Linked DNA regions of Homo sapiens: regions 1 and 2 are each linked to region 3. Evidence: fine-mapped expression QTL. A gene starts in region 3. Each other region holds a variant in brackets. All regions are shown on one strand. Distances are from middle to middle.

Region 1 (10,290 bases), 59 kb before region 3:
TACTCATCAGTCATTCACTGATCAGCAGCTAAAGTCCATGAGACCAAATGGTTTTATATGGAACCAACGAAGTGGGAGCTAAAACTGCACAGTGGTCATTCTTTGGCCTCTCCTTGGCTTTATGACTTAAACCAACTACAACTTCCCTATAGCTTCTAAGCAGTTTCATCAGCATTACTTGGGAAAACGTGTTGCAAGTCAACCAGTCACTAGGATATTTCTACCCATGCAACGGAAGAAAAACCCATTACTCCAGAAGAGTATATCTAAGTAACTAAAATGGAGGCAGAAAATGTTTTAAGGATTTTCTTCAAAGAATAAGCCACAGCAATGGTTTTGTAGAAAACTCCTGTGCTTTTGAGCAAGGACTTTTGCCCTCTAGAAAGCAACTGAGGCCAGGTGCGGTGGCTCACGCCTGTAATCCCAGCACTTTGGGAGGCCGAGGTGAGCGGATCACCTGAGGTCAGGAGTTTTGAGACCAGCCTGGCCAACATGGTAAAATCCCGTCTCTACTAAAATTATAAAAATTAGCCGGGCATGATGGTGGGCACCTGTAATCCCAGCTACTTGGGAGGCTGAGGCAGGAGAATCACTTGAACCCAGGAGGCAGAGGTTGCAGTGAGCCAAGATTGCACACTGCACTCCAGCCTGGGTGACTAGCAAAACTCCATCTCAAAAAAAAAAAAAAGAAAGAAAGAAACTGAAAAGTGAGGTGTGGAACTCCAGGCAACGACCCAAGCACTTATTTTTTAAGAGGGAAAGGACTTTGGTCATGTTTACATTGGCCTTTGGTTTTTTTTTTTCTTTCAGCCACAACTATATGCTGATATAACTCAGCCATCACTTTTGAGTTTTGTTTTTAAATGAAGGTTAAATGTGACCTGTGCCCTCACATTTAATTCCGTTTCATGGAGACATCTTCCTGACTTTGTTGGATAGCTGCCACTAGGGTTGCTTCGATCTTCAGCCACATGCTGTCCTTGAAGCAGCTATTTGAAGATGTGTTTTCTGAGGAAAACAGGCTACAACTGTTTATTAAAACCACTTGCAGTGCATTCGTTTATCAGATGCTCAGTGCAAAGTGTAATTGGGTCATGGTCAAAAACGCTTGCAACATCTAATTGGCGTTCAAGATAGTCATTCAAAAGTTCTTGGCCCGCTGAAGTCTGTTAACAGTTGAAACATTCTACAGTTAACCATTAGCATGCTAGTTGTCCTAATGGAAATTTTTGAAGAGTTTTTCAATATATACCCTACCCTTGCCAGGAAGAGAAGTAAAATCCTCAGGTTGTGGGGTATTTGTTTCTACTCCAGCCTGGCAGGCAAGGCTAAAACCTGAGATTATCGATCTATGAGACATCTTGATATGTAAAGCACTTAATATTAAAGGCATAAAAGTGAAACTGCTAAATATGTATAGAGAGGTTGACGTGTGATACGTGGGACAGTTCACATAGACATCAGAGAATTTATTCCAGAAAGGAGCCTCCTGAATGTGATGAATACGGCAAAGCCTTTAATCACATCTCAGCCCTTAGCATCGGAAAGCTTATACTGTAAATAAACTTGATGAATATTATATGTGAGGAAAACTTTCATGTATAGCACTCATTGCTTCAGACAGAAAATGAATTCCGTCGGTATGTTCCAATCGTGATGAATTTGAGAAACATTGCAAGAGGGAGCTCAATCTTGGCCGGGCGCCGTGGCTCACGCCTGTAATCGCAGCACTTTGGGAGGCCGAGGCAGGCGGATCACGAGGTCAGTAGTTCGAGACCAGCCTGGCCAACATGGTGAAACCTTGTCTCTACTAAAAATACAAAAAAAAATTAGCTGGGCACAGTGGCGCACGCCTGTAGTCCCAGCTACTCGGGAGGCTGAGGCAGGAGAATGGCTTGAACCTGCGAGGCGGAGGTTGCAGTGAGCTAAGATCATGCCACTGGCACTCCAGCCTTGAGTGACAGAGCGAGGCTCTGTATCAAAAAAAAAAGTTGCGGGGGGGTGCTCAATCTTAACTGCAGAGGATCTACAGATGAAAAAAAATGTGGGGAAATGCTTTAAAAAAATAGCAAAATGTGCAACTTCTTACAAAAATTGTTAACGTTAGGTACTTCTATATATTTTATATGACCATAATGTCCGTGTGTGTTTTGTACCTTCAGTCCCTTGTTATTGTTCCGTATATTACCTGTAAGCAGATACTGTATTTTATTTTAGCCTATTTGACAGAACACATCACTCAGAAAAAGTGAAGTTTCAGAGCAAACAGTGAAGAAATCAGTGTGATTGTAGACAAAAAGTCGGTTCACAGAACGGAGCAGCGGGGAGAGGAAGGGAAAAGCTTCATAGTTTGGTGCTTATCACATCAAGAGATTGGTAAATTTCTGAGGAAAGACAGGCTAATGGGGCACTGAAATGGAACAACTCCTTTAAACGTGCAGCCTTTTGAATTTTTCCTCAAAACCAAGAAGTTGACCTCTGAGCTGTCAGGTGACCACTGTGTGCAAAGGGGATGGATTCTCTTGTCAGTAGACGGTCTTCTCCATGAAGCGAGAGTAGGAAGTGTACTGGAATGGCCAAGTGGGACTGCTTCAGCTGACCAGGTTCTTTTAAACCGTAGTCATGCTTTCCCACTAACTCTTAAATCCTTATGCTTAGAAAATTGAGGATAAGGCTGGGCACAGTGGCTCAGGCCTGTAATCCCAGCACTTTGGGAGACCAAGGCGGGTGGATCACAAGGTCAGGAGATCGAGACCATCCTGGCTAACATGGCGAAACCCCGTCTCTACTAAAAATACAAAAAAATAGCTGGGCGTGGTGGCGGGCGCCTGTAGTCCCAGCTACTCAGGAGGCTGAGGCAGGAGGATCACTTGAACATGGGAGGCGGAGGTTGCAGTGAGCCAAGATGGCGCCACTGCACTCCAGCCTGGGTGATGGCGTGAGACTCCATGTCAAAAAAAAAAAAAAGGTTGGGGGGAGGATAGGACTGGCCAGGCACGGTGGCTCACTCCTGTAATCTCAGCACTTTGGGAGGCAGAGGTGGGCGGATCACTTGAGGTCAGGAGTTTGAGACCAGCCTGGCCAACGTGGTGAAAGCCTGTCTCTACTAAAAATACAAAAATTAGCCGGGCGTGGTGGTGGGCGCCTGTAGTCCCAGCTACTCAGGAGGCTGAGGCAGGAGAATCACCTAAATCTGGGAGGCAGAGGTTGCAGTGAGCCGAGATTGCACCACTGCACTCCAGCCTGGGTAACAGAGACTCTGTCTCAAAAAAAGAAAAAAAAAAAAGAAAGAAAGAAAGAAAATTGGGGATAGGAGAACAGCAAGGTGGGCATTTCCCGGAATTGTGTGCAGATGCATCCAGTCGTGGCATTGCAAGAAGTCTGTCTGATGAAGCTCGGGAAGCATTTTGCAATATTCCCTTTGGCTGTGTTCCTGTGTTCCCTGCTCCCACTTTTCTTCCCCTGGTTTGTGATTATTAGGAGAGAGGTTTTGCAAAGACTCGTTGCTGTGAAAGAATCTTTTTTTAATTTTTATCCTAGAGTCAGTCACTTTTATTCCAGGTAGTCATGCTGATCTGCTTATCCAAAGCCAGCTAACCAGGTTCATCCTACCATCCTCATGGAAGACTGTGTGTATGAATTGGAGTAACAGAACTGAAATACACTTAAACAGTGACAGCAGTACTTCCCAGGGTGGGGGCCATATTTCTCTGTGTCCTACTCTGAGCAACTTCTCAGAGATACGAGGGGGCTAGGGTTTTCCCATCTGGGAAATGGGGTGAAAGTCTGCAGATTGTTAAATGAAATATAGAATCAGAGAAAAAGAAAAGTCAGTGATATAAATAGATCATTTCATAGAAATTAGGGTAGATTTTTATTTCAACTACTACTGGAGAATTTAATAAAAGGCATTATTTGAAAAGTTTTTCTAACATAGATTTAGGGTTTTTTTTTTTAGAGTGGACACACTACATTTAAAAGCAATTATTTTGCTATTCAGATTTTTTATTATCTGAAAATGAAATTATCTGTTTTACTTTTCAAAGCTTTGTGAAACAAACTTGAAGTTATAGGGAGGTAAGCCATCTCCAACTCTGCAGGTCAAACGAAAGTTTGGGAAATACTTTTGACATCCCACAATACAGAATGTCTTAACATGAGAATTGAATTTCATGATGTGTGGTTCCATTTAATAGCGGACACCACCCCAATCTCATGTTTTCCTGTTACCCTAAAACAGTGGAAGGAAACTGGGTGTTTGGTAGACTTCTAAATCATGGTCTCTGACAATTTGAATCTGAGATTCTCACCTCCATTTACTAAAGAATCGTGACTTAATTCAAATTGCACAGTAATCAGTAAAGTGAATACGTTTTTAAAATGGAATTTTCTCCCTTCAGCAAGCACTCATTAAGGAGTGAGGCTGAGTATTTTAAGATAGAGTGAGATCTGTGAGTGATTGAAAGGTGATATTTAAAAACTTGGATTTCATTCCAGTGTCAGGTTTGGGTTTTAAGTTCCTTTGGTCCAGGGAAGGGTCCAAGCAGCCACAGTTGCCCTAAATCTCCATCATTAAGTCTTCCAGCAAGGTTAAGTGCAGTATGGAAGGAGAAGGGGGAAGAGGACGGTAACGGCCCCACACTCCAGGCTGAGAAAGAGTAATTAGGAGGCCTGAGGAGGGGCCGAGGAAAGGCTGTTGGGGTGTGCTGGGGTTGGTACCCGAGCGCCTTCCCCTCACCTCAACCAGAGAAGAGCATCCGGTTGCTTTTTAAAGCTTTTAGCCTGCCCTAGCAAGGACAAAGCATGTTAGATTAGAGATGCTTCTGCTGATCGCAGGGGTTCTTATTTGAAAACATCTATGATGGGGGTGGGGTGGGAGGAGACAGGTTGTGGTTATGCAGGAAAATCTTGTCCTAAAAATATATGAGTTTGGGGGTAAGGGGTGGGATAGCCAAGCAAAATCAGTAATTATTTTAAAATGAACATATGTATTTTTATTAACTTTTAGTTAAATACAGATTTTACAACGAGGTCAGCATAAGCCTAAATCTATATAGAGGGCTAACTCAGGCATTGTCTTGTTTATTTGTAGACTGGATTAAAAACAACCTGTCCTGTTTTGTCAGTTCCCAGCTTCTTCGTTTAGAATAAATTAGACCAAAAGAAGAAACGTGCTTGTCTCTGTATACCCGCAGAATGAAGTTACTGTTGTTAAAACTGGATTTTTTCATTTTACTAGGTTCCGAAGAGTCCAGATGCTTGGTAGATGTTCAATACGTGATTTTTTTTTTAATTGAATGTGTTCATTTAAAATCCTCCTTAACATTTCTAGAAAGACTTCTTTCAATAAATAATGGAATCTTAGAGGAAAAGTGGTTTTTTAAAAGCTAGGGAACTCCTCCACTAAAAGTAACCATTGGAAACCTCGAATGAGGGCTAAAGTTTTAATCATAAGAGAAAAGGCAGCATAATGAAATGTGTACACATACATAGTCAGTGGTCCATTTTAGGAAGCCAGTGGC[G/A]TCTGATAAAGAAATGTTAAGAGTAGTGAGGTTGAGGAAGGAAATTGTGGGGATTTGAAATATTCTCTTTATGTTGTTTCTCTTCTGAGTCATGGTAAAACAATAAATTATCATCTCTAGGTGGCAGTGCTTGTGCTGGTTTGTTTTTTGTTCTTTGTTTTTCTCATCCTTGGTTGCATAAATACACATTGGGGGTGAAGAAAAAAAAGTATTCCAAAGTTAAAAGACTGGAGCTGCAACCCACAAACAAAATTCTCATGCAAAACTATCTGTTTACTTTGCAAACCAAAATTAAATTTCAAAGGCCACCCAGTCACCTGAATGGACCTCTCCTCTCAGCCAAGGGCATTCCAAAGTTAACCTGAAAAACTAGTTCAGGCCATGATGGGAAGGGGGAGCCAAACATGCCTCATTATACCCTCTCCCCATATGGAATTACTGATAACAACAGACTCTTTAAGACTGATAGACATGGCCAGCCATGGTGGCTTATGCCTGTAATCCCTGCAGTTTGGGAGGCCGAGGCAGGCAGATCACCTGAGGCCAGGAGTTCGAAACCAGCCTGGCCAACATGGTGAAACCCCCTCTCTACTAAAAATACAAAAATTAACCAGGCGTGGTGGCGGGCGCCTGTAGTCCCAGCTACTCGGGAGGCTGAGCCAGGAGAATCACTTGAACCCAGGAGGGGGAGGTTGCAGTGAGCCGAGATCGCACCACTGCACTCCAGCTTGGGCAACAGAGTGAGACTTTGTCTCAAAAAAAAAAAAAAAAAAAAGGTGAACTGGGAGGATGTGAGGTTGTGTCCAGGAGGCATCCAAACACATCTCTGACTGTTTTTACTCACACTTCTGACACAATGTGGGATTTTTTTTCATACACCAACCAATTCTCTGGACACCAACTGGGTGCCATACGATTCAATTCAATTCTGACACTACCTGTAACTGATGCAGACTCCACAGGTTGTGGGCTCAGTCCCTCAAGACTGCCCCCATTTCAGACGCCAGTCTTACATTCCGGGTTTTCACCTGTGCTTTGGACCGGCTATAAATCAAGGGCTTCCACAATCTTCTCCTCAGTCTCAGGTTTGATAATTTGCTGGGATGGCTCATAGGTCTCATATATATTTTTATTATATATACACATGTGTATGTGTATATGTGTATAGATACACGTGTGTGTGTGTGTGTGTGTGTGTATACGAATACACCACCACACCCAGGTAATTTTTGGGTTTTTTTTTTTTTTTTTTTAGACGGAGTCTCGCTCTGTCTCCCAGGCTGGCGTGCAGTGGCGCCATCTCGGCTCACTGCAAGCTCCGCCTCCCGGGTTCCCGCCATTCTCTTGCCTCAGCCTCCCGAGTAGCTGGGACTACAGGCGCCCGCCACTGTGCCCGGCTAACTTTTTTTGTATGTTTTAGTAGAGACGGGGTTTCATAGTGTTAGCCAGGATGGTCTCGATCTCCTGACCTCATGATCTGCCTGCCTAGGCCTCCCAAAGTGCTGGGATTACAGGCGTGAGCCACCGCACCTGGCCTTTTTTGGGTATTTTTTGTAGTGACAGTCTGGCTATTTCCCAAGCTGGTCTTGAACTCTTGGGCTCAAGTGATCTGCCTGCCTTGGCCTCACAGGTGTGAGCCACCACACCCAGCCCTATTTTTTCTTAATAATTATTTTTTCTTTTATAGAGATGGGGGTCCCCCTATGTTGCCCAGGCTGGTCTCGAACTCCTGTCCTCAAGCAATCCTCCCACCTTGGCCTCCCAAAGTGCTGGGATTACAGGCGTGAGCCACTGTGCCCGACCCAGAACTGGATTTTATTTTTCTTTATTTTTGTAAGACAAGTCTCGTTCTGTTGCTCAGGCTGGAGTGCAGTGGCACGATTGTGGCTCACTGCAACCTCAACCTCCTGGACTCAAGCAATCCTCCTATTTCAGCCTCAGCTGGGACTACAGGCATGCATCACTACGCCTAGATTTTTTTTTAATTTTTTGCAGAGACAGGGTCTTGCTATGTTGCCCAGGCTGGTCTCAAATTCCTGGGCCTCAAGCAATCCTCCCACCTCAGCTTCCCGAAGTGCTGGGATTATATTCATGAGCCACCATGCAAGGGCCTAAAATCCAGTTTTAGCAAGAACCCTGCTAAGTTTAGCAAAAACCTCCCACCCTCCATATCTACTTAGGCTTTTTTCTTTTTCTTTTCTTTCTTGATTTTTTTTTTTTTTTTTTTTTTTTTTTTGGAGACAGAATCTCTCTCTGTTGCCCAAGCTGGAGGGCATGATCTCAGCTCACTGCAACCTCCACCCCCTGGGTTCAAGTGATTCTCCTGACTCAGCCTCCCGAGTAGCTGGGACTACAGGTGCACACCACTACACCCAGCTAATTTTTGTATTTTTTTTAGAGACGGGGTTTCGCCATGTTGGCCAGGCTGGTCTCGAACTCCTGACTTCAAGTGATCCACCTGCCTCAGCCTCCCAGGGTGCTGGGATGACAGGCGTGAGCCACCGCTCCCAGCCCATATCTAATTACTCTTGATATTTATCTGGTCAGGTTCCTTGTCCTCCACCATCCCCCAGGCGATGTCTGATCAGCCTGGCCTGTGTTCAGCAAGAATACCCCTTCCCTCTGATGTTTCCTCTTGATCATTTTCCATACACTGACCCCCATCCTGCTCCTTGGCTATAAATTGCCACTTGCCCATGCTGTGTTCAGAGCTGAGCCCAATCTCTCTCCCCTCACTGCAAGACCCCACTGCAGTGGTTCCTGTATTTATTAGGATGGTCCTGAATAAAGTCTTCCTTACCATGCTTTAACAAGTAGCACTGAGCCGGGCATGGTGGCTCACGCCTGTAATCCCAGCACTTTGGGAGGCTGAGGCAGGCGGATCACGAGGTCGGGAGATCGAGACCATCCTGGCTAACACGGTGAAACTCCGTCTCTACTAAAAAAAATACAAAAAAATAAAATAAAATTAGCCAGGCGTGGTGGCGGGTGCCTGTAGTCCCAGCTGCTCGGGAGGCTGAGGCAGGAGAATGGCGTGAACCCGGGAGGTGGAGCTTGCAATGAGCTGAGATCGTGCCACTGCACTCCAGCCTGGGTGATGGCGTGAGACTCTATCTCAAAAAAAAAAAAAAAAAAAAAAAAAGTAGCACTGAATAATTTTTTTCATGAAGTTTAACTCCACCATTCCACTTTCATTCTCTTTTCCTTTCAATTTCTTTAGCAAATGTCTTTGCAGCTTTCCAACATGCTGCACATGTCTTCTGCTTCCTGGAAGAAAAAGGACATGTTCGGAGTTGTCATGCGCCAGAGGCTTGCCCAGCCTGCTCTAAGGGAAGTCACGGTTTGGTTACCCTCTGCTGGCCAGCTGATGGCAGCAAAAATAGGTGATGATGAGAACGAGCGAGGAAGATCCAGAAATGCACCTTTTTAGAGAGAACCATGAACACCTTACTGGAAATGGAAGGAAGGTGCCAGAGACAACACTAAATGCTGGAATCTTTTCCTCTCCTGGGTTTCCGCTGCAAAGGGCACTGGAATTATTTTTCTTTTGTCAAGCCAATAATCTCCCAGGCATGGTGGTGTGCATCTGATCCCGCTACTTGGGAGGCTGAGGCAGGAGGATTGCTTGAGCACAGGAATTCTCGACCAGCCTGGGCAACATGGCGAAACCCCTACGAAACATTTTTTCAAAAAATAGGTGCGGTGCGGGTGCGGTGGCTCACGCCTGTAATCCCAGCACTTTAGGAGGCCGAGGTGGGCAGATCCTGAGGTCAGGAGATCCAGACCATCCTGCCCAACATGGTGAAACCCCATCTCTACTAAAAATACAAAAAGCTAGGTGTGATTGCGCATGCCTGCAATCCCAGCAACTTGGGAGGCTGAGGCAGGAGAATTGCTTCAACCAGGGAGTTGGAGGTTGCAGTGAGCCGAGATGGCGCCACTGCACTCCAGCCTGGCGACAGAGCAAGACTCAGTCTCACCAAAAAAAAAAAAAAAAAAAAAATTGTCCAGCATGGTGGCGTGCATGGGAATTATTTTTCTTTTGTGGTCCCAGCTACTCGGGAGGCTGAGGCAGCAGGATTGCTTGAGCCCAGGAGTTCTCTACCAGCCTGGGCAACATGGTAAAACCCCTAGAAATAATTTTTTAGGGGCTGGGCGCAGTGGCTCACGCCTGTAATCCCAGCACTTTGGGAGGCCGAGGCGGGTGGATCACGAGGTCAGGAGATCGAGATCATCCTGGCTAACACGGTGAAACCCCGTCTCTACTAAAAATACAAAAAATTAGCCGGGCATGGTGGCGGGTGCCTGTAGTCCCAGCTACCCGGGAGGCTGAGGCAGGAGAATGGTGTGAACCTGGGAGGCGGAGCTTGCAGTGAGCCGAGATCACGCCACTGCACTCCAGCCTGGGCGACAGAGCGAGACTCCGTCTCAAAAAAAAAAAAAAAAGAAATAATTTTTTAGAAAAATAGCCAGGCATGGTAGCATGTGCCTACTCGGGAGGCTGAGGTGGGAGGATCACTTGAGTCCAGGAGTTGGAGGCTGCAGTGAGCTATGATCACACCACTGCACTCCAGCCTGGGCAACAGAGTGAGGCCCTACCGCAAATAAATAAATAAAAATAAAAAATCTCTTGAGACACAGCAAGCACACAGGATTGGAGAATCTGGCTTGTGCTCTCAGCTTTGATACTAATTAGCTAACTAGTGTACCTTGGATCCGACTTCTTCAGGCACTGGTTTCTTCAACTGAAAACAAGAAACAAGAGTTT
Region 2 (10,290 bases), 290 kb before region 3:
GTTGCTCAGGCTGGAGTGTAATGGTGTGATCTCAGCTCACTGCAACCTCTGCCTCCCGGGTTAAAACGATTCTCCTGCCTCAGCTTTCTAAGTAGCTGGGACTATAGGTGTGCACCACCATGCTTGGAAATTTGTGGCCTAGAACCCCAATTCAACTGCAAATCACTCCTTGACTATTTACTGAATGCTTGCCATGGACAATGTCCATGTATTTTTGTATTTTTTGTATTTTTAGTACAGATAGTGTTTCACCATATTGGCCAGGCTGGTCTCAAACTCCTGGCCTTGGCCTCCCAAAGTGCTGGAATTAGAGGTGTGAGCTACTGCACCTGGCCGGAAGCAAGACTTTTAATGGTGGCCTTGCAAGATCGGGTGTCTGGTAGGCAGGTACAACCAGGGCAGTTACAGCAGGTAATTTATCTCCTAGCACAGAATTCCTTCCCCCAGTTCCTCATTGGTCAAGTACTACAGAGTTATCTTCCTGGACATCGCCTAAGTTTCATTATCCCCCTTATAAGGTTATACCCCGGTTCCCTTCCCTGCTTAAGTTTGACTTCCTGATAATAAAACTTTCTTCCCTTTTATGGGCTGACCCCTCCTCTACATTCTGTTCACTTATTATGACCTTCTAGGTGCATGAGCCGTGCAGTTTGTTACATCCACAGGCTGGCTGCCAGTGCTTAGATTTACCATGCCTTGAAAATGGATCATTTAAGGGGGAGGAGCCAAGATGGCCGAATAGGAACAGCTCCGGTCTACAGCTCCCAGCGTGAGCGACGCAGAAGACAGGTGATTTCTGCATTTCCATCTGAGGTACCGGGTTCATCTCACTAGGGAGTGCCAGACAGTGGGCGCAGGCCAGTGTGAGCGCGCACCGTGCGCGAGCCGAAGCAGGGCGAGGCATTGCCTCACCTGGGAAGCGCAAGGGGTCAGGGAGTTCCCTTTCCGAGTCAAAGAAAGGGGTGACGGACGCACCTGGAAAATCGGGTCACTCCCACCCGAATATTGCGCTTTTCAGACCGGCTTAAAATACGGCGCACCACGAGACTATATCCCACACCTGGCTCAGAGGGTCCTACACCCACGGAATCTCGATGATTGCTAGCACAGCAGTCTGAGATCAAACTGCAAGGCGGCAACGAGGCTGGGAGAGGGGCGCCCGCCATTGCCCAGGCTTGCTTAGGTAAACAAAGCAGCCGGGAAGCTCGAACTGGGTGGAGCCCACCATAGCTCAAGGAGGCCTGCCTGCCTCTGTAGGCTCCACCTCTGGGGGCAGGGCACAGACAAACAAAAAGACAGCAGTAACCTCTGCAGACTTAAGTGTCCCTGTCTGACAGCTTTGAAGAGAGCAGTGGTTCTCCCAGCACGCAGCTGGAGATCTGAGAACGGGCAGACTGCCTCCTCAAGTGGGTCCCTGACCCCTGACCCCCGAGCAGCCTAACTGGGAGGCACCCCCCAGCAGGGGCACACTGACACCTCACACGGCAGGGTATTCCAACAGACCTGCAGCTGAGGGTCCTGTCTGTTAGAAGGAAAACTAACAACCAGAAAGGACATCTACACCGAAAACCCATCTGTACATCACCATCATCAAAGACCAAAAGTAGATAAAACCACAAAGATGGGGAAAAAACAGAACAGAAAAACTGGAAACTCTAAAACGCAGAGCGCCTCTCCTCCTCCAAAGGAACGCAGTTCCTCACCAGCAACGGAACAAAGCTGGATGGAGAATGATTTTGACGAGCTGAGAGAAGAAGGCTTCAGACGATCAAATTACTCTGAGCTACGGGAGGACATTCAAACCAAAGGCAAAGAAGTTGAAAACTTTGAAAAAAATTTAGAAGAATGTATAACTAGAATAACCAATACAGAGAAGTGCTTAAAGGAGCTGATGGAGCTGAAAACCAAGGCTCGAGAACTACGTGAAGAATGCAGAAGCCTCAGGAGCTGATGCGATCAACTGGAAGAAAGGGTATCAGCAATGGAAGATGAAATGAATGAAATGAAGCGAGAAGGGAAGTTTAGAGAAAAAAGAATAAAAAGAAATGAGCAAAGCCTCCAAGAAATATGGGACTATGTGAAAAGACCAAATCTACGTCTGATTGGTGTACCTGAAAGTGATGTGGAGAATGGAACCAAGTTGGAAAACACTCTGCAGGATATTATCCAGGAGAACTTCCCCAATCTAGCAAGGCAGGCCAACGTTCAGATTCAGGAAATACAGAGAACGCCACAAAGATACTCCTCGAGAAGAGCAACTCCAAGACACATAATTGTCAGATTCACCAAAGTTGAAATGAAGGAAAAAATGTTAAGGGCAGCCAGAGAGAAAGGTCGGGTTACCCTCAAAGGAAAGCCCATCAGACTAACAGCGGATCTCTCGGCAGAAACCCTACAAGCCAGAAGAGAGTGGGGGCCAATATTCAACATTCTTAAAGAAAAGAATTTTCAACCCAGAATTTCATATCCAGCCAAACTAAGCTTCATAAGTGAAGGAGAAATAAAATACTTTATAGACAAGCAAATGCTGAGAGATTTTGTCACCACCAGGCCTGCCCTAAAAGAGCTCCTGAAGGAAGCGCTAAACATGGAAAGGAACAACCGGTACCAGCCGCTGCAAAATCATGCCAAAATGTAAAGACCATCAAGACTAGGAAGAAACTGCATCAACTAACGAGCAAAATCACCAGCTAACATCATAATGACAGGATCAAATTCACACATAACAATATTAACTTTAAATATAAATGGACTAAATTCTGCAATTAAAAGACACAGACTGGCAAGTTGGATAAAGAGTCAAGACCCATCAGTGTGCTGTATTCAGGAAACCCATCTCATGTGCAGAGACACACATAGGCTCAAAATAAAAGGATGGAGGAAGATCTACCAAGCCAATGGAAAACAAAAAAAGGCAGGGGTTGCAATCCTAGTCTCTGATAAAACAGACTTTAAACCAACAAAGATCAAAAGAGACAAAGAAGGCCATTACATAATGGTAAAGGGATCAATTCAACAAGAGGAGCTAACTATCCTAAATATTTATGCACCCAATACAGGAGCACCCAGATTCATAAAGCAAGTCCTGAGTGACCTACAAAGAGACTTAGACTCCCACACATTAATAATGGGAGACTTTAACACCCCACTGTCAACATTAGACAGATCAACGGGACAGAAAGTCAACAAGGATACCCAGGAATTGAACTCAGCTCTGCACCAAGCGGACCTAATAGACATCTACAGAACTCTCCACCCCAAATCAACAGAATATACATTTTTTTCAGCACCACACCACACCTATTCCAAAATTGACCACATAGTTGGAAGTAAAGCTCTCCTCAGCAAATGTAAAAGAACAGAAATTATAACAAACTATCTCTCAGACCACAGTGCAATCAAACTAGAACTCAGGATTAAGAATCTCACTCAAAGCCGCTCAACTACATGGAAACTGAACAACCTGCTCCTGAATGACTACTGGGTACATAACGAAATGAAGGCAGAAATAAAGATGTTCTTTGAAACCAACGAGAACAAAGACACCACATACCAGAATCTCTGGGACGCATTCAAAGCAGTGTGTAGAGGGAAATTTATAGCACTAAATGCCTACAAGAGAAAGCAGGAAAGATCCAAAATTGACACCCTAACATCACAATTAAAAGAACTAGAAAAGCAAGAGCAAACACATTCAAAAGCTAGCAGAAGGCAAGAAATAACTAAAATCAGAGCAGAACTGAAGGAAATAGAGACACAAAAAACCCTTCAAAAAATCAATGAATCCAGGAGCTGGTTTTTTTAAAGGATCAACAAAATTGATAGACCGCTAGCAAGACTAATAAAGAAAAAAAGAGAGAAGAATCAAATAGACACAATAAAAAATGATAAAGGGGATATCACCACCGATCCCACAGAAATACAAACTACCATCAGAGAATACTACAAACACCTCTATGCAAATAAACTAGAAAATCTAGAAGAAATGGATACATTCCTCGACACATAC[A/T]CTCTCCCAAGACTAAACCAGGAAGAAGTTGAATCTCTGAATAGACCAATAACAGGCTCTGAAATTGTGGCAATAATCAATAGTTTACCAACAAAAAAGGAGTCCAGGACCAGATGGATTCACAGCCGAATTCTACCAGAGGTACAAGGAGGAACTGGTACCATTCCTTCTGAAACTATTCCAATCAATAGAAAAAGAGGGAATCCTCCCTAACTCATTTTATGAGGCCAGCATCATTCTGATACCAAAGCCGGGCAGAGACACAACCAAAAAAGGGAATTTTAGACCAATATCCTTGATGAACATTGATGCAAAAATCCTCAATAAAATACTGGCAAACCGAATCCAGCAGCACATCAAAAAGCTTATCCACCATGATCAAGTGGGCTTCATCCCTGGGATGCAAGGCTGGTTCAATATACACAAATCAATAAATGTAATCCAGCATATAAACAGAGCCAAAGACAAAAACCACATGATTATCTCAATAGATGCAGAAAAAGCCTTTGACAAAATTCAACAACCCTTCATGCTAAAAACTCTCAATAAATTAGGTATTGATGGGACGTATTTCAAAATAATAAGAGCTATCTATGACAAACCCACAGCCAATATCATACTGAATGGGCAAAAACTGGAAGCATTCCCTTTGAAAACTGGCACAAGACAGGGATGCCCTCTCTCACCGCTCCTATTCAACATAGTGTTGGAAGTTCTGGCCAGGGCAATCAGGCAGGAGAAGGAAATAAAGGGTATTCAATTAGGAAAAGAGGAAGTCAAATTGTCCCTGTTTGCAGACGACATGATTGTTTATCTAGAAAACCCCATTGTCTCAGCCCAAAATCTCCTTAAGCTGATAAGCAACTTCAGCAAAGTCTCAGGATACAAAATCAATGTACAAAAATCACAAGCATTCTTATACACCAACAACAGACAAACAGAGAGCCAAATCATGAGTGAACTCCCATTCACAATTGCTTCAAAGAGAATAAAATACCTAGGAATCCAACTTACAAGGGATGTGAAGGACCCCTTCAAGGAGAACTACAAACCACTGCTCAAGGAAATAAAAGAGGACACAAACAAATGGAAGAACATTCCATGCTCATGGGTAGGAAGAATCAATATCGTGAAAATGGCCATACTGCCCAAGGTAATTTACAGATTCAATGCCATCCCCATCAAGCTACCAATGACTTTCTTCACAGAGTTGGAAAAAACTACTTTAAAGTTCATATGGAACCAAAAAAGAGCCCACATCGCCAAGTCAGTCCTAAGCCAAAAGAACAAAGCTGGAGGCATCACACTACCTGACTTCAAACTATACTACAAGGCTACAGTAACCAAAACAGCATGGTACTGGTACCAAAACAGAGATATAGATCAATGGAACAGAACAGAGCCCTCAGAAATAATGCCGCATATCTACAACTATCTGATCTTTGACAAACCTGAGAAAAACAAGCAATGGGGAAAGGATTCCCTATTTAATAAATGGTGCTGGGAAAACTGGCTAGCCATATGTAGAAAGCTGAAACTGGATCCCTTCCTTACACCTTATACAAAAATCAATTCAAGATGGATTAAAGATTTAAACGTTAGACCTAAAACCATAAAAACCCTAGAAGAAAACCTAGGCATTACCATTCAGGACATAGGCGTGGGCAAGGACTTCATGTCCAAAACACCAAAAGCAATGGCAACAAAAGTCAAAATTGACAAATGGGATCTAATTAAACTAAAGAGCTTCTGCACAGCAAAAGAAACTACCATCAGAGTGAACAGGCAACCTACAACATGGGAGAAAATTTTTGCAACCTACTCATCTGACAAAGGGCTAATATCCAGAATCTACAATGAACTCAAACAAATTTACAAGAAAAAAACAAACAACCCCATCAAAAAGTGGGCGAAGGACATGAACAGACACTTCTCAAAAGAAGACATTTATGCAGCCAAAAAACACATGAAAAAATGCTCATCATCACTGGCCATCAGAGAAATGCAAATCAAAACCACTATGAGATATCATCTCACACCAGTTAGAATGGCAATCATTAAAAAGTCAGGAAACAACAGGTGCTGGAGAGGATGTGGAGAAATAGGAACACTTTTACACTGTTGGTGGGACTGTAAACTAGTTCAACCATTGTGGAAGTCAGTGTGGCGATTCCTCAGGGATCTAGAACTAGAAATACCATTTGACCCAGCCATCCCAATACTGGGTATATACCCAAATGACTATAAATCATGCTGCTATAAAGACACATGCACACGTATGTTTATTGCGGCATTATTCACAATAGCAAAGACTTGGAACCAACCCAAATGTCCAACAATGATAGACTGGATTAAGAAAATGTGGCACATGTACACCATGGAATACTATGCAGCCATAAAAAATGATGAGTTCATGTCCTTTGTAGGGACATGGATGAAATTGGAAACCATCATTCTCAGTAAACTATCGCAAGAACAAAAAACCAAACACCGCATATTCTCACTCATAGGTGGGAATTGAACAATGAGACCACATGGACACAGGAAGGGGAATATCACACTCTGGGGACTGTGGTGGGGTCGGGGGAGGGGGGAGGGATAGCATTGGGAGATATACCTAATGCTAGATGACACGTTAGTGGGTGCAGTGCACCAGCATGGCACATGTATACATATGTAACTAACCTGCACAATGTGCACATGTACCCTAAAACTTAAAGTATAATTAAAAAAAAAAACATTAAAAAAAAAAAAAAGAAAATGGATCATTTAAAATGTTTTCTCACACCCACCAAAAATAAAAATTTTAAATTTAAATAAATAAAAATTTAAAAAAGAATTTCCAGAAGATTTCTTATGACAGTGGTTCTCAACCACTAGCTGTTCATTGTGATCACCTGGGAGTTTTAAATATTCACGATGCTTGTGTCATCTCAGAGATTCTAAAATACTTTCCCCACAGTGTTGCTTTAAACATCCTCTCCATTGCTTCTCATGTGAAACCAAATTTGAGAATCACTAAATCAAGACATTTCTTCCAGAGTAGAAAATCTCCCAGAGGTCAGGGTCATCCTGACTGTTAGAACTCACCTTCCAGGACCCTTCCTGCTGACAAGCCAAGCTAGTTCTCAACCCAACAATAATTCTATGAATGTTCTTCCCTCTCTCTTTCTTATCCTCTCCCCATCCTTCATGTCCTGGTTCAATCCCCAACCTCCTCCGAAAAGCCCTTCCATCTAGTCCAGGGCCCATTCAGTCCTCTGCTTTGTTATTCATTACTGCAGGCTGTTATCATCACCTGATTTCATATTTGTCACTAAATCATTCATGTTTGTTTACTAAGTTCTCTCTATATCTAAGAATGTCTGTCCTCAGCCCCTTAAAAAATATCACTTCATTTTATTTCTTTCATAAAATTCAAATAGCACTTTGCAGGGGACATTTCCATGGCAAGCATTCAGTAAATGTTCAAGGAGTGATTTGCAGTTGAATTGGGGTTCCTGGCCACAAATTTTAAGGTATTTAATTTTTAATTTTAATCTGACATTTATGTATGTGTGGGTGTTTGTGGGTGTGTTTGTCTGTCTCTTAGAAAAATACATTCATGTCACTTTAAAATTAAAAATAACATGGTGTTACCTTTATAGAAAAGTTGGGATCTTTTCCCTGATGAACTTAAAGACAGTTGTCATTGATTGATGTCAAACAAGACCTTCTAAGTCTTATTTCTAGGATTCATGCATTCAATATGCAACTCCTTCTCTGAAGCAGGATTTCTGCATGGGAATGGAGGAGGGTAGAGATGGTTTTCATCCTATTTGTGGCTTAATGGAAGCTTTGTAGCCAATCTGTGCATCTGTACAAATAGGGGGCTCAGTGCGGGAGAAAGCAGGCTTGTGGCACATTTGGGAAGGGGAAGATAGTCCCTAGCCCAGCTCCCAGGCATCTACAGGCTGATGTTTCTCAGTCTCTATAGCAATTTGCTTGCCCTCCACTCAACTGAGATTGGAAGTTACAGTGTTGCTGACTTGATAAGAGTGAGGCTAAAACTATGGTCAAAATGCTGTAGGACTTGAGAAGTTCCCCATTTGCACTGCTCTTTGTAGCCAAGATGAGATGTTAAAAGCAAAAGCACAGGCCAGGCGCGGTGGCTCATGCCTGTAATCCCAGCACTTTGGGAGGCCGAGGCAGGCTGATCACTGAGGCCAGGAGTTCAAGACCAGCCTGGCCAACATGGTGAAACTCCGTCTCTACTAAAAATACAAAAATTAGCTGGGCTCAGTAGTGCCCACCTGTAATCCCAGCTACGGGGGAGGCTGAGGCAGGAGAAGTGCTTCAACTCAGGAGGCGGAGGTTGCGATGAGCCGAGATCACTTCACTGCACTCCAGCTCAGGGCCCACAGAGCAAGACTCTGTTTCAATAAATAAATAAATAAATAAAGTCTCCTGAAGCCCTCTTCCCATCATTTCATAGGATGGGTTTAATTAGGAGGGGTTACTGGACTTTTCAGAAGTCAATGGCTGCTTGTATAATTAAAATGTATAATATCTACTCAAGATTTTTTTTTTTTTTTAGACAGAGTCTTGCTCTGTCGCCCAGGCTGGAGTGCAGTGGCAAGATCTCGGCTCACTGCAAGCTCCGCCTCCCAGGTTCACGCCATCCTCCTGCCTCAGCCTCCCAAGTAGCTGGGACTACAGGCACACGCCGCCATGCCCGGCTAATTTTTTGTATTTTTAGTAGAGACGGGGTTTCACTGTGTTAGCCAGGATGGTCTCGATCTCCTGACCTTGTGATCCGCTGGTCTTGGCCTCCCAAAGTGCTGGCATTACAGGCATAAGCAACCACGTCCAGCCTACTCAAGATTATTTTGCAAGTTTTAACATATACAAATTTAATTGTATATGGCTTTTCAAAAATAGTTTACCATACTGCTTGAGAATCTAGATTTAATATTTAAAAGTCATCCTTTTTACTAAGAATTTCTATCAAGATCAGGCTCAGTGGTTGATGTCTGTATTCCCAGTAATTTGGGAGGCTGAGAGAGAAGGATTGCTTGAGCCCGCACTTTGAGACCAGCCTAGGCATTATAGCAAGACCCCATATCTACAACAACAAATAAAGTCTGGACATGTTGATGCATGCCTGTAGTTCCAGCTACTCGAGAGGCTAGGGCAGGAGGATCACTTGAGCCCAGGAGTTTAGGGCTGTATTTCTGCTGACTTTTAAGAATGTCGAGGATTTACTTGTCACATAATTCATAATTCCTCAGGGCAAGGAGACATGGAACGTGGGTCAGTGATGATAATGAGCCAGTGCCATTTCCAAAGGCTCAGCTTTGGGATCTCTTCCAGCAAGCAGGCATAGAGGGGCTCTCAGATGACAGCATTGCTGTCGCAGGCCTCATCCTTACCAGCTCCTGGGGTAAATATTTCACTCTTCAGAAAGCAGGATGTGTCTGTTCTGACCCCTACTACCCCAAAGAAGAAGCTCAAATCATCTTATTGGAGTCCTTGATGTTGTATGTGCTGCTTGTAGTGACATCAGCCACATCCCTGGTGGCTAAGGTGGCTGGAGTCCACCTGGCAATCCAGGTAGCTGTTCTCCTCTTCTCTCCTTTCACACCCATTGTTCCCAGACATGCATTATTTCCAGAGAGAGGGGCATTCTTTGGTCAGGAGCATCTCTAGCTTTCCGTCTTCTGCAGAACCATTTGAGGGGGTGCACAGGAAGCAGCACAGTATGCTGCTTCTCACTGAAGCCGTCATCTTCATCTCCTTCCCTGTGTCTCCATTACAGGCCCTCTTGACAACAGAATCCTGGTGGATCATTCTGAATGTACAGGAATGGCAGCTGAGGCCCAGCCAAAAGCTCTTGCTGTATGCAGGAAAGTGGCTTGGTCACCAGAGTCCTAGGGAAAGAGTCCCAGGAAAAGTTTTGCAATATGCAGCAATCTAACCCAACTAAACTCAACAAATCTTTCTGGATGCCCACTCTGTGTAAAGGACTCAGCTAGGGCCTGCAGACATAGTGGTGAATAATACTCAGACTGTCCTTAAGAAGCTCATGCTCTGGTAAGGGATCACCACTGCTCATGTGTGGAAACCAACACGGTGCTGGAGAGGAGGAAAGACAATAATAGAACCATGGGAGGGGGGAAAGAAGTTGCCCAGAGGAGGAAGCAGTCATGTCTGATTCCTAAATCAGAGAAAGCCTCTAATAGGAGAGGTCTGGGCTTGGTGCAGTGGCTCACCCCTATAATCCCAGCACTTTGAGAGTCCAA
Region 3 (9,495 bases):
AGGCAGGAGAATCGCTTGAATCTGGGAGGCAGAGGTTGCAGAGAGCTGAGATCACTACACTCCAGCCTGGGTGACAGAGCAAGACTTCGTCTCAAAAAAAATAAATAGTGTAGGAAACAAAATTTCCTGTGTCCCTATGATATGAAGTGTGGAATTTTCCACTTAAAAGCTGATCTGAGGCTCTGGACATGTCTGTAGCGGGAAGTGGTGGTGTGAAAAACACACACCCTAAGACTAATAAGCACTTTTTCAGGAGGCTCGCACGGCCCACGCCAACGTTTGCCCACCCGCACCCAGCTCTCCTACCTCATGAGCTTCATGTCCAGAGGTTCAAACTGGGAGGGGGGCTGCCGGCTGTGCTGGTGCACATAGGTGATGTGCTGGGCCAACCTGGACAGAGGGAAGGTTAGAAGGAACACCCTTTTTAGGGCTACGCACCCATGTCCTCTTAGGTGTCCCTCCTTTGGCTCTGCCACTTCCTCACAGTGTAGGAGGGACAAGCTTTCCCGGGAAATCCTCATCAGCATTTCAGCCCCAACCCACCATTTCCCTGAGAACCATGGACCAGCCCCTGCTGCAAAGGGGAGGCTCTGGGGTTTCCAGGAGCGTGGAATTTGTTTTCTGATTCACCTCTCCTCCTCCCTACACAGATCATTACAGGGGACCTCTCTTTGGGTGTTGAGCTTCATTCACCGTAGGTCATTGTCTCGGTCGGGCCGGTCCTGAATCAGCCAGAGGAGGTCAAACCGGGAGAGCAGTGCAGCAGGTAGCTGTATGTTCTGCTCCAGGCTGCGGCGAGGGTTGTAGCGCCCGTAGGCAGGGTTGGCGGCAGCCAGGATGGAGCAGCGGGCATTGAGTGTGGTGAGAATGCCGGCCTTGGCAATGGAGATGGTCTGCTGCTCCATGACCTCGTGGATGGCTGTGCGGTCGGCCTCAGCCATCTTGTCGAACTCATCAATGCAGCACACACCCTGGTCAGCCAGCACCAGGGCCCCACCCTCTAAGGTCAGTTCTCCACTCACGGAGTCTCTCAGCACAGCTGCCGTAAGCCCCACTCCTGAGGAGCCCCGGCCTGTTGTGTACTGGCCTGGAAGAGAAGAAATAAGGAACCATGAGAGAGAAAGAACAAGAAAGAGAACAAGCAAAAGACAACAAACGGGCCAGGGAGGCGAGGCCTGCGCTGGGATCATTCCACTCCCTCCACCAGGCCTTCTTGAGATGCCCGAGGATCTGTGGGGCACTGGCAATGTCCCCCTTCCCCTCCCACTGGTTCTCTTCAGAACACAACTGTGGCTCACTGAAACCTTGGCTCCTGGGCTCAAGCCATCCTCCGGCCTCAGCCTCCCAAGTAACTGAGACTATAGGCACTCACTACCACACCCAACCAATTTTTAAAACTTTTTAGTAGAGGCCGGGCGCAGTGGCTAACTCCTCTAATCCCAGCACTTTCGGAGGCCGATAACAAGGCGGGCAGATCACGAGGTCAGGAGTTCGAGACCAGCCTGCCCAACACAGTAAACCCTGTCTCTACTAAAAATACAAAAAGTGGCCAAGTGTGGTGGCACGCGCCTGTAGTCCCAGCTACTCGGGAGGCCGAAGCAGGAGAATTGCTTGAACCTGGGAGGCAGAGGTTGCAGTGAGCCAAGACCATGCCATTGCACTCCAGTCTGGGTGACTGAGACTCCGTCTCAAAAAAAACAAAAAACAAAACAATACCCAAACAACAAAAAAAACTTTTTAGGCCGGGTGCGGTGGCTCACGCCTGTAATCCCAGCACTTTGGGAGGCCGAGGCGGGCGGATCACGAGGTCAGGATATCGAGACCATCTGGCTAACACGGTGAAACCCCGTCTCTATTAAAAATACAAAGAATTAGCCAGGCGTGGTGGCGGGCGCCTGTAGTCCCAGCTACTCGGGAGGCTGAGGCAGGAGAATGGCGTGACCCCAGGAGGTGGAGCTTGCAGTGAACCGAGATAGCGCCACTGCACTCCGGCCTGGGCGAAAGAGCAAGCCTCTATCTCAAAAAAAACAAAAACAAAAACAAAACTTTTTAGTAGACATGGAAGCGGTCTCAAAATCCTCGCCTCAAATGATTCTCCTGCCTCAGCCTCTCAGAGCATTGGGATTACAGGCGTGAGCAAACATGCACCCCTACTTTTTGAATAAACACTGTGGTCCTGTCTGTCACTATATTCACCTCCCGCAAAGCCCAACTACTTACTGCGAGGCGCCAGTCGATCAATGTATGACAGGAGCTGAGACTTGGCCACACCAGGATCCCCCATCAGACAGATGTTGATGTTGCCTGGAGGAAGGGAAGGCAGCCCTGGAATGACTCTTCTCCCAGTGCTTGGCCAACAACAGAGCAATTTTGAGTTCTGCCTACCCCTAACACCCAGCACTATTTCTAAGCCCTCCCTGTGTCCACGAAGGCAAGATGTCCACTCATACTGTGACCTACAGGGACACTTGTCATCCTTTTTTCCTCCTAAATGACTTCATCCACCCTGAGCCTCTCCCTTGTTTCTTCTTACCCCGGATTTTCATGCCTCGAGGAGACTGGTCCACACCCCCGACTAGCAGGAGCAGCAGTGCCTTCTTCACATCTTCATGCCCGTATATTTCTGGGGCGATTGAAGCTGCCAGCTTTTCGTAGAAATCCTCCTCTGTAGAGAAGTTAAGGTTGTTTTATTTTCTGGGGGAAAAGGGAGCTAGGATGTAAACGGAATTTCCTCTCTCTCCCCTGCCCCTCACCTGCAATTTGCCTCAGCTCCTCCCTGGTGAGCTCTCCAGCCCCAGACTCATCATCCTCACTCTTGTTCATCTTCACAATCCGATGGGCTTCCAGGTAGGTTTCTGAGAGTAAACCCTTGGGCAGGAAAATGCCAGGATACAGATGTAATCCCTTCAACTTGCCCATCACTGGATTCCCTAACAATTTCTTGACAAATCCCTGGGTTCTGTTTTGTTTGGGGTTTTGCTGCTCTTTTCTCTGTGTGGGTAGAATGAGTAGGTGAGGGAAAAGGGGATGATCCATTCCTCATGTCAAACTCTTCCTTACCTGTACCACCTGTCGGAACCCAGTGCGCAGGATTGGCAAGAAAATACCAGTGACGCTGACGTGGTCTCCAGGCTGGGCAATCCTTGTGTTCTCTCCTTCTACCAGCACCGTGATACTACGAGGGATATTTCCCACAGGCACCTGATCACTCTAGGGGAGGGAAAGGCACATAAGACTAGGAGAAATGGACAAGGACCCAACCTTCCCTCCCTAGGCATCCCACTCAAAGGCTCCCAGGCTACCCAGCCACAGACAAGCCCACAGCAGGGGTGCTGAGACCTCCTTTCCCCTTCCCAAGGCTCCCAGGAAATTCTAGTTCCACCTCCCTCCTGCACTTCCCTCTTTTGTTCTTCTTTCTTCCTGCCATTCCACAAGTGACTACAGGATTCAAGTGGACTCCCGATCCACCTGCCCAGGGCCACGTACCCCAAACTCACATGTTCTTGCATCTTCATCTCCTGGAATTTGATGAATCTGGAGCCCCGTGTCTGCAGATACAGCCGCCCTCCTGAGCGGTTGGTTTGGCACTCCTGGCTTGGGCACATGATCAGAGGCATGAAAGTGGGAGACTGGATCTAGGATGTGAGAACAGAAACACCAAAGGAACTCAGAAGGAAAAGAGCCCCATTGGGTCGGTCCTTTGAATCACATTTTCTCTTCATGGCAGACATCTTGTAAGTGTCAAGAACCCTCTGAACTTACTCTGGGTCAACAACAAACACCCAGAAAATAGGTAGAAAGACCACTACATACCCAAGAATGAAAGGCGAACACACAGGCAACTTTTACAACCAAATAAAACAATAGGCATCACAGGATCAAATTAATCTCTACAAAACAACTAATGGGTAAGTGCTTTCCTGCTTCTTGCTCCACACGTACCGGCTGGTAGGTCTCTGCCCCACACTGGTCACAAGTGTAAGTGGCCACCACCATCTTGGGTTTGACTTCAGAGACACGAGTGACGATTCCACGCACAGTTACCAACTTCCCCACAGAGTCAGCCCGCACTTCCCGGATCACACGAGGCTTGTTGCTGCTAGGGCCTTGAAAATACAGCTCACTAAGGGGAGAAAACAGTCACAAACAAGATCCTGGAGAACCAATCCCTACATCTTTCCCGACAGAGACCACTCACAATCTGCGCATGAGTTCAGCAGGGTACTGGTTCTGGGGGCTTCGGACCATCCCAGGGTCCCGACTCCGCTGCTCCATCATTAGCCGATGCTCAATGTAAACGTCCAGGACATCTTTATTTACCACCTAAAGGAGAAGAACAAAAAAAAAAAAAAAAAAGAGCAACAGGATGGGGAAAGGAGAGCACAGAGAACACCAGGCAGAAGTGCCCCTCCTTTCTGCCTGCTCAGAAAACATCAGTATCTGAGCAGCCTCTCTACAGAAGCTTAAACGCCTCGCCCTTTGTTTGCCATTGTTCTCTAACCACTCACTTCCCTCTCCTTGTACTGAGGCAGCAGCTCTTGTACGGCATCAGCAAAGAGCTTCGCGTAGCGCCTGGCATTCTCACAAATTGAGTCCACCAACTCGGGGTCATCCTCGGCTACGTCGTCCAGGTCCACATACAGAGCCACCTGTTCCCGATGAGCCAGCCGAACCTCAAGTGGGGAAGAGACAGAAACACCTCAGAGCCACATTCACTTTGCTCACCAGTGTTCATATGTGAAAATGCATCACTGAGAACTCAGCACAGGCTCTGGGCATCCACAGGGGAGAACGCAGCGCCACACAGAGCGATACTCGCTTTTCAGCCCTCAAACCCTCTAATTGTTATGTCTTTAATAAAACAAGCCAAGCTGCTGCTTATGGCTCCTTAAGCACCCCGCTCCCCATTCCCTTTACCCAATCTTAGACTTACCAACTGGTTCCCATACTTGAACTGCTTCTTCCCGAGTTCATCATCCTGGTAGAACTCTTGTAAGAACTTCTTAACCTTTTCTGTAACATGAAATGTAAAACCGTAAGACACAAACTTTAAGACAAATCTTAGATACCCATTTTCGCTTAAAACACGACCTATGAACTAATTAATAATATGAGCATTTAAATAAACCTACCGAAGTCTCCCCAAAGTGGGCATAACTCTTTTTCACAAGTCTGTTTCTAACCAGCGAAGAATAAAGAGCCCGTGGCAGTGCACAGGGCCATCCAACATCTCCCCAGGGGAATTCCGGTCCCTACTTTAGTTTAAAATTCTAGCGCCCTTCCCCGTTGGCCCCTCACACTCCGGTCTCAAGGTTCTCAGCTTTCTTTCCACCCCTATGATCCCCCGCCTTCTTTGGGTCCCCTTAGCCCCTGATTTCACCGGGACCTCCGCCACCGCACCCCGCCACCGCACCCCACCCCCGCTCCCGCCATCGCTTCCGCTCTTAGTAAACAAAGAAGCACATGGGCCCGGATTCCAGCCGCTTCACAGCTCGGGATTCCTCCGCCCAGGGCGGGAGCCAGTCCAGCCATTGGCCATCACACCCAGAGACACCGCGATCCCAGCCCACTGCCGCCTTTCCCGGGCCCGAGCGAAGCTCCGGATCCCAGGCACGCCCCCCCGGGCCGCAGCTCTCTCCGCGGCCGCCGCGCGGAAGGACACTGTTTACACGACACTCCCTCCAGCCTCCTCGCGCCACTTCCGCCCGGCTCCACTTCCGCTCGGAGGGCGGCCTCAAACGGCCAATCCCGGCGCGCAGCGGCCCCGGCCTGCCCGCCCCCGGGGCCTACGCGCGCCTGGGGAGGGCGCGGGAACCTGGGAATGCCCAAAAGCGCGAAGGAAAGCGGGCACGGGAGCCCAGAGCCCTTAAGACTCTCCTGAGGTCCTGGGCGCGACTTTTCCCTGTGCAGCCCCCAGCCGGGTTAGCGCGCCCCCAAGCCCCCAACCCCACGACCCTAACACCTTTACCAGGTGGGATTACTAGCTTTTCTTCAACATCGATGGCCCCCCGCACGCTTCCCAGGCCCCGTGGGCCTTAGCCAGGCCGCAGCTCGACCCTGCCTCTGGCCTCGCGCACCCCAGAACCCGCCGACCCCGGTCCCCCAAGACCCCAGCTCACACCAACAGGTGTTCCCCGGGAGGCTCCCCGCGCAGGACGCCCTCCCGGGCTCGTAGACCCGTACCCTTCTCTAGCGCGTAGTCCTTCAGTGCCATCGCTGCCGAGGGCCGTGCGGCCGCGCTTGGCGGGCTCAGAGGTCTTGCTCCTGGGGAAGCTGAGAATCTCCGCGCGGTGGACTGTGGCCGGCCAACCGAAATTGGCGCGAAACGTCGCCCCCCACGTGACCGGCGCCACTGCGTGCGGGCCAATCGGACAAGGCGGCCTTCTTCACCTCCCGCTAGCCGCAAGCCAATCACCGTGCGGGCCTAGAATGAGTGACGGGGAGGCGGTGCGGGCGTCGGAAGGGAATCTCCGGGCGGGGTAGTGCAGGCGCCGGGTTTCCCGCGGTCCGAGCTGGCGCGGGCGGAGGAGAATCGCTCTTAAAGGGCCAGCGCACACGCGTTCTTTTGTTCCGGGGCCGCAGGGCGGGGCAGGCCCGACTTTCGCCGTCTTCTTGTCTACTCTCCAGAACGGCCATGATTTCCCAATTCTTCATTCTGTCCTCCAAGGGGGACCCGCTCATCTACAAAGACTGTATCCTAGACCCTTGGGGCTGGGAAGGGGCGGAGGGGCCGGGCGGGAGGGGCGCCCAGGGCCAGCCTGTGTCGCAGGATCCTTCACTGAGTCCTTCCACCCGCCAGTCCGCGGGGACAGTGGCGGCCGGGATGTGGCCGAGCTCTTCTACCGGAAGCTGACGGGACTGCCAGGAGACGAGTCCCCGGTTGTCATGGTAACCAGTGGCGGGAGGCGGGTGAGGAGCGGGGTCCCGTCGGGCCGGGTGGGCGCCAGCTCCCTCCCAGGACTGGTTCATTGGTAGATTCCACTTGGGGGGTGCATTCCGCCAAATAAAGCTAACGTGAGGCCCGGCGCGGTGGCTCACGCCTGTAATCCCAGCACTTTGGGAGACCGAGGCGGGCGGATCACCTGAGGTCAGGAGTTCGAAATCAGCCTGGCCAACATGGTGAAACTCCGCCTCTACTAAAAATACAAAAAAAAAAAAAACATAGCTGGGCGTGGTGGCGGGCGCCTGTAATCCCATCTACTCGGGAAGCTGAGGCTTGAGAATCGCTTGAATCCAAGAGGCAGAGGTTGCAGTGAGCCGAGATCCGGACACCGCACTCCAGCCTGGGAGACAGAGCGAGACTCCCTCTCGGGGTAGGTGGGGGTGGGGAAAAAAAAAAAAAGAGTCAATGGGCGCCAGCAACACACCAGGCCCAGCTCCCTGCGTGACTCCATCCTCAGCAACTCGGGGTAGTTAGTGTAATTAACCCCCTTTCCACATTGGGAAGCTGGGCCCAGGCATATGTCATGTATCTCCCAAAGGCACTGCTGTTGTGACTAGTAAGAGGCATCGGGATCCGAGCTCAGGTCTCCTGGGTTCTGATCACTCCACCTCCCTTTTTTTAACGCCTCTCTTCTCCCTGCCTGTGTCTCAGCATCACCATGGCCGTCATTTCATTCACATCAGACACAGCGGCCTCTATTTGGTGGTCACAACTTCAGAAAACGTTTCTCCCTTCAGCCTCCTAGAACTGCTCTCCAGGTGAGGAGGGTTGGGCTGGGCACCTGGTAGCTAGGAGGGGTCTGAGAGGAGGAGAAAATACACGCTCCAAGTGTTTCCTCAGGTTGGCCACCCTTCTGGGCGATTACTGTGGCTCCCTGGGCGAGGGGACCATCTCCCGCAATGTGGCTCTGGTATACGAACTCCTGGATGAAGTGCTGGTGAGAATCAACAATCCCCTTCTGTGGCCCCTACCCAATTCCCCTGAAGATACATCTGCTCTTCTACTGTGGGATGCCGTGGTTAGGAGGCCAAGTCTACCTTTTTTTTTTTTTTTTTTTTTGCTTTTAGAGACAGGGTCTTGCTCTGTTGCCCAGGCTGGACTGCAGTGGTGCAGTTATAGCTCACTGCAGCCTGGAACTCCTGGGCTCAAGCCGTCCTCCTGCCCCAGCCTCCCCTGTGCCTAGCTAATTGTTTATTTTTTGTAGAGACTAGAGTCTCACTGTGTTGCCCAGGCTGGTCTTGAACTCATGGCCTCAAGCCATTCTCCTACGTCTCGGCCTTCCAAAGCGCTGAGAGTACAGGAGTGAGTCACCATGCCTGGCCCCACTCCCCCTCTTTACCCCTTCCCTCCACTGATCACTCAGACTGTCCTTCCTTTACCACTAGGACTATGGCTATGTACAGACCACATCCACGGAGATGCTGAGGAATTTCATCCAGACGGAAGCTGTGGTCAGCAAGCCCTTCAGCCTCTTTGACCTCAGCAGCGTTGGCTTGGTCAGTAGAGGGAAAGAGGAGGGTGAGGAAAGAGAAGAGGGGTTGGCTGGGGTTGTCAGACCTGATGATTGATTGCTTTGGATGCTTTACAGTTTGGGGCTGAGACACAACAGAGCAAAGTGGCCCCCAGCAGTGCAGCCAGCCGCCCCGTCCTGTCCAGTCGCTCTGACCAGGTGAGGGAAGGATCCATGGGGTCAGACGCTCTGGTTTTGCTCTGGGATCCGGGAGTCCAAGATCTTAGGTCGGGCACAGCGGCTCACGCCTGTAGTCCCAGCACTTTGGGAGGCCGAGGTGGGCAGATCACCTGATGCCAGGAGTTTCAGAGCAGCCTGGCCAACATGGTGAAAACCTGTCTCTACTAAAAATGCAAAAAAAAAAAAAAAAAAAGAAAAAGATCTTGGCACATCTCCCACCCCCCCAGATGTGGGTGGAGGTGGGAGATGATCCCTTCCATCACCCATGTCCTCACCCTAGAGCTGTAGCTTTGACTGTCCTGTTCTTTCTCCCTGTCTGTCCATTTCAGAACATAGGCTATTCTGCTTCCAACCACCCAAATTCTCTCTCTTTCTCAGAGCCAAAAGAATGAAGTTTTTTTGGATGTGGTCGAGAGATTGTCTGTACTGATAGCATCTAATGTAAGTTTGAGCTCCCAAACCTGGAGCTGAGGACAGATGGGACTTGGGAAACATGGTGGGGTGGCTAAGACTCCCAGCAACGGCCGGGCACAGTGGCTCATGCTTGTAATCCCAGTGCTTTGGGAGGCCGAGGTGGGAGAATTACTTGGGGCCAGGAGTTTGAAACCAGCCTGGGCAACATAGCCAGACCCCGTCTCTACAAAAAATACAAATAAACAAATTACCCAGACATGGTAGTGTACACCTGCTGTCCCAGCTACTTGGGAGGCTGAGCCAGGAGGATCACTTGAGCCCAGGAGGTTAAGGCTGCAGTAAGCCAAGATCGAGTCACTGCACGCTAGCCCGGATGACAGAGCAAGACCCTGTCTCTTAAAAAAAATAAATAAGTAAAAAAGGCTGGGCACAGTGGCTCATGCCTGTA

The links. PIP is the estimated chance that this variant, and not a neighbour inherited with it, causes the effect.
Region 1: its variant is fine-mapped to the expression of MCM7 in whole blood (TOPMed, PIP above 0.99).
Region 2: its variant is fine-mapped to the expression of MCM7 in lung (TOPMed, PIP 0.98).

The regions. Positions count from the first base shown.
Region 1 is chr7:100,036,042-100,046,331 of GRCh38, forward strand. ZKSCAN1 (zinc finger with KRAB and SCAN domains 1) reads left to right here. Exons shown (of 6, transcript NM_003439.4): 6 at 1-5,648. Among named protein-coding and RNA genes, the nearest start is that of ZSCAN21, 8.6 kb to the right of the region's middle. RefSeq lists enhancers at 1,289-1,790, 1,791-2,290. The variant G/A (reference allele first, on the strand shown) is at 5,523.
Region 2 is chr7:99,808,485-99,818,774 of GRCh38, forward strand. No RefSeq gene overlaps it. Among named protein-coding and RNA genes, the nearest start is that of CYP3A43, 14 kb to the right of the region's middle. RefSeq lists enhancers at 394-997, 998-1,600. The variant A/T (reference allele first, on the strand shown) is at 4,010.
Region 3 is chr7:100,095,081-100,104,575 of GRCh38, forward strand. MCM7 (minichromosome maintenance complex component 7) reads right to left here and starts at 6,317. Exons shown (of 15, transcript NM_005916.5): 1 at 6,184-6,317; 2 at 4,934-5,013; 3 at 4,509-4,673; 4 at 4,199-4,323; 5 at 3,943-4,123; 6 at 3,498-3,635; 7 at 3,061-3,210; 8 at 2,754-2,868; 9 at 2,534-2,665; 10 at 2,221-2,304; 11 at 694-1,087; 12 at 307-390. The coding sequence starts at 6,214. AP4M1 (adaptor related protein complex 4 subunit mu 1) reads left to right here and starts at 6,563. Exons shown (of 15, transcript NM_004722.4): 1 at 6,563-6,692; 2 at 6,800-6,888; 3 at 7,595-7,701; 4 at 7,784-7,880; 5 at 8,329-8,439; 6 at 8,532-8,612; 7 at 9,012-9,074. The coding sequence starts at 6,635. RefSeq lists enhancers at 421-921, 5,512-5,671, 6,017-6,569, 6,592-6,641 and a silencer at 5,782-5,881.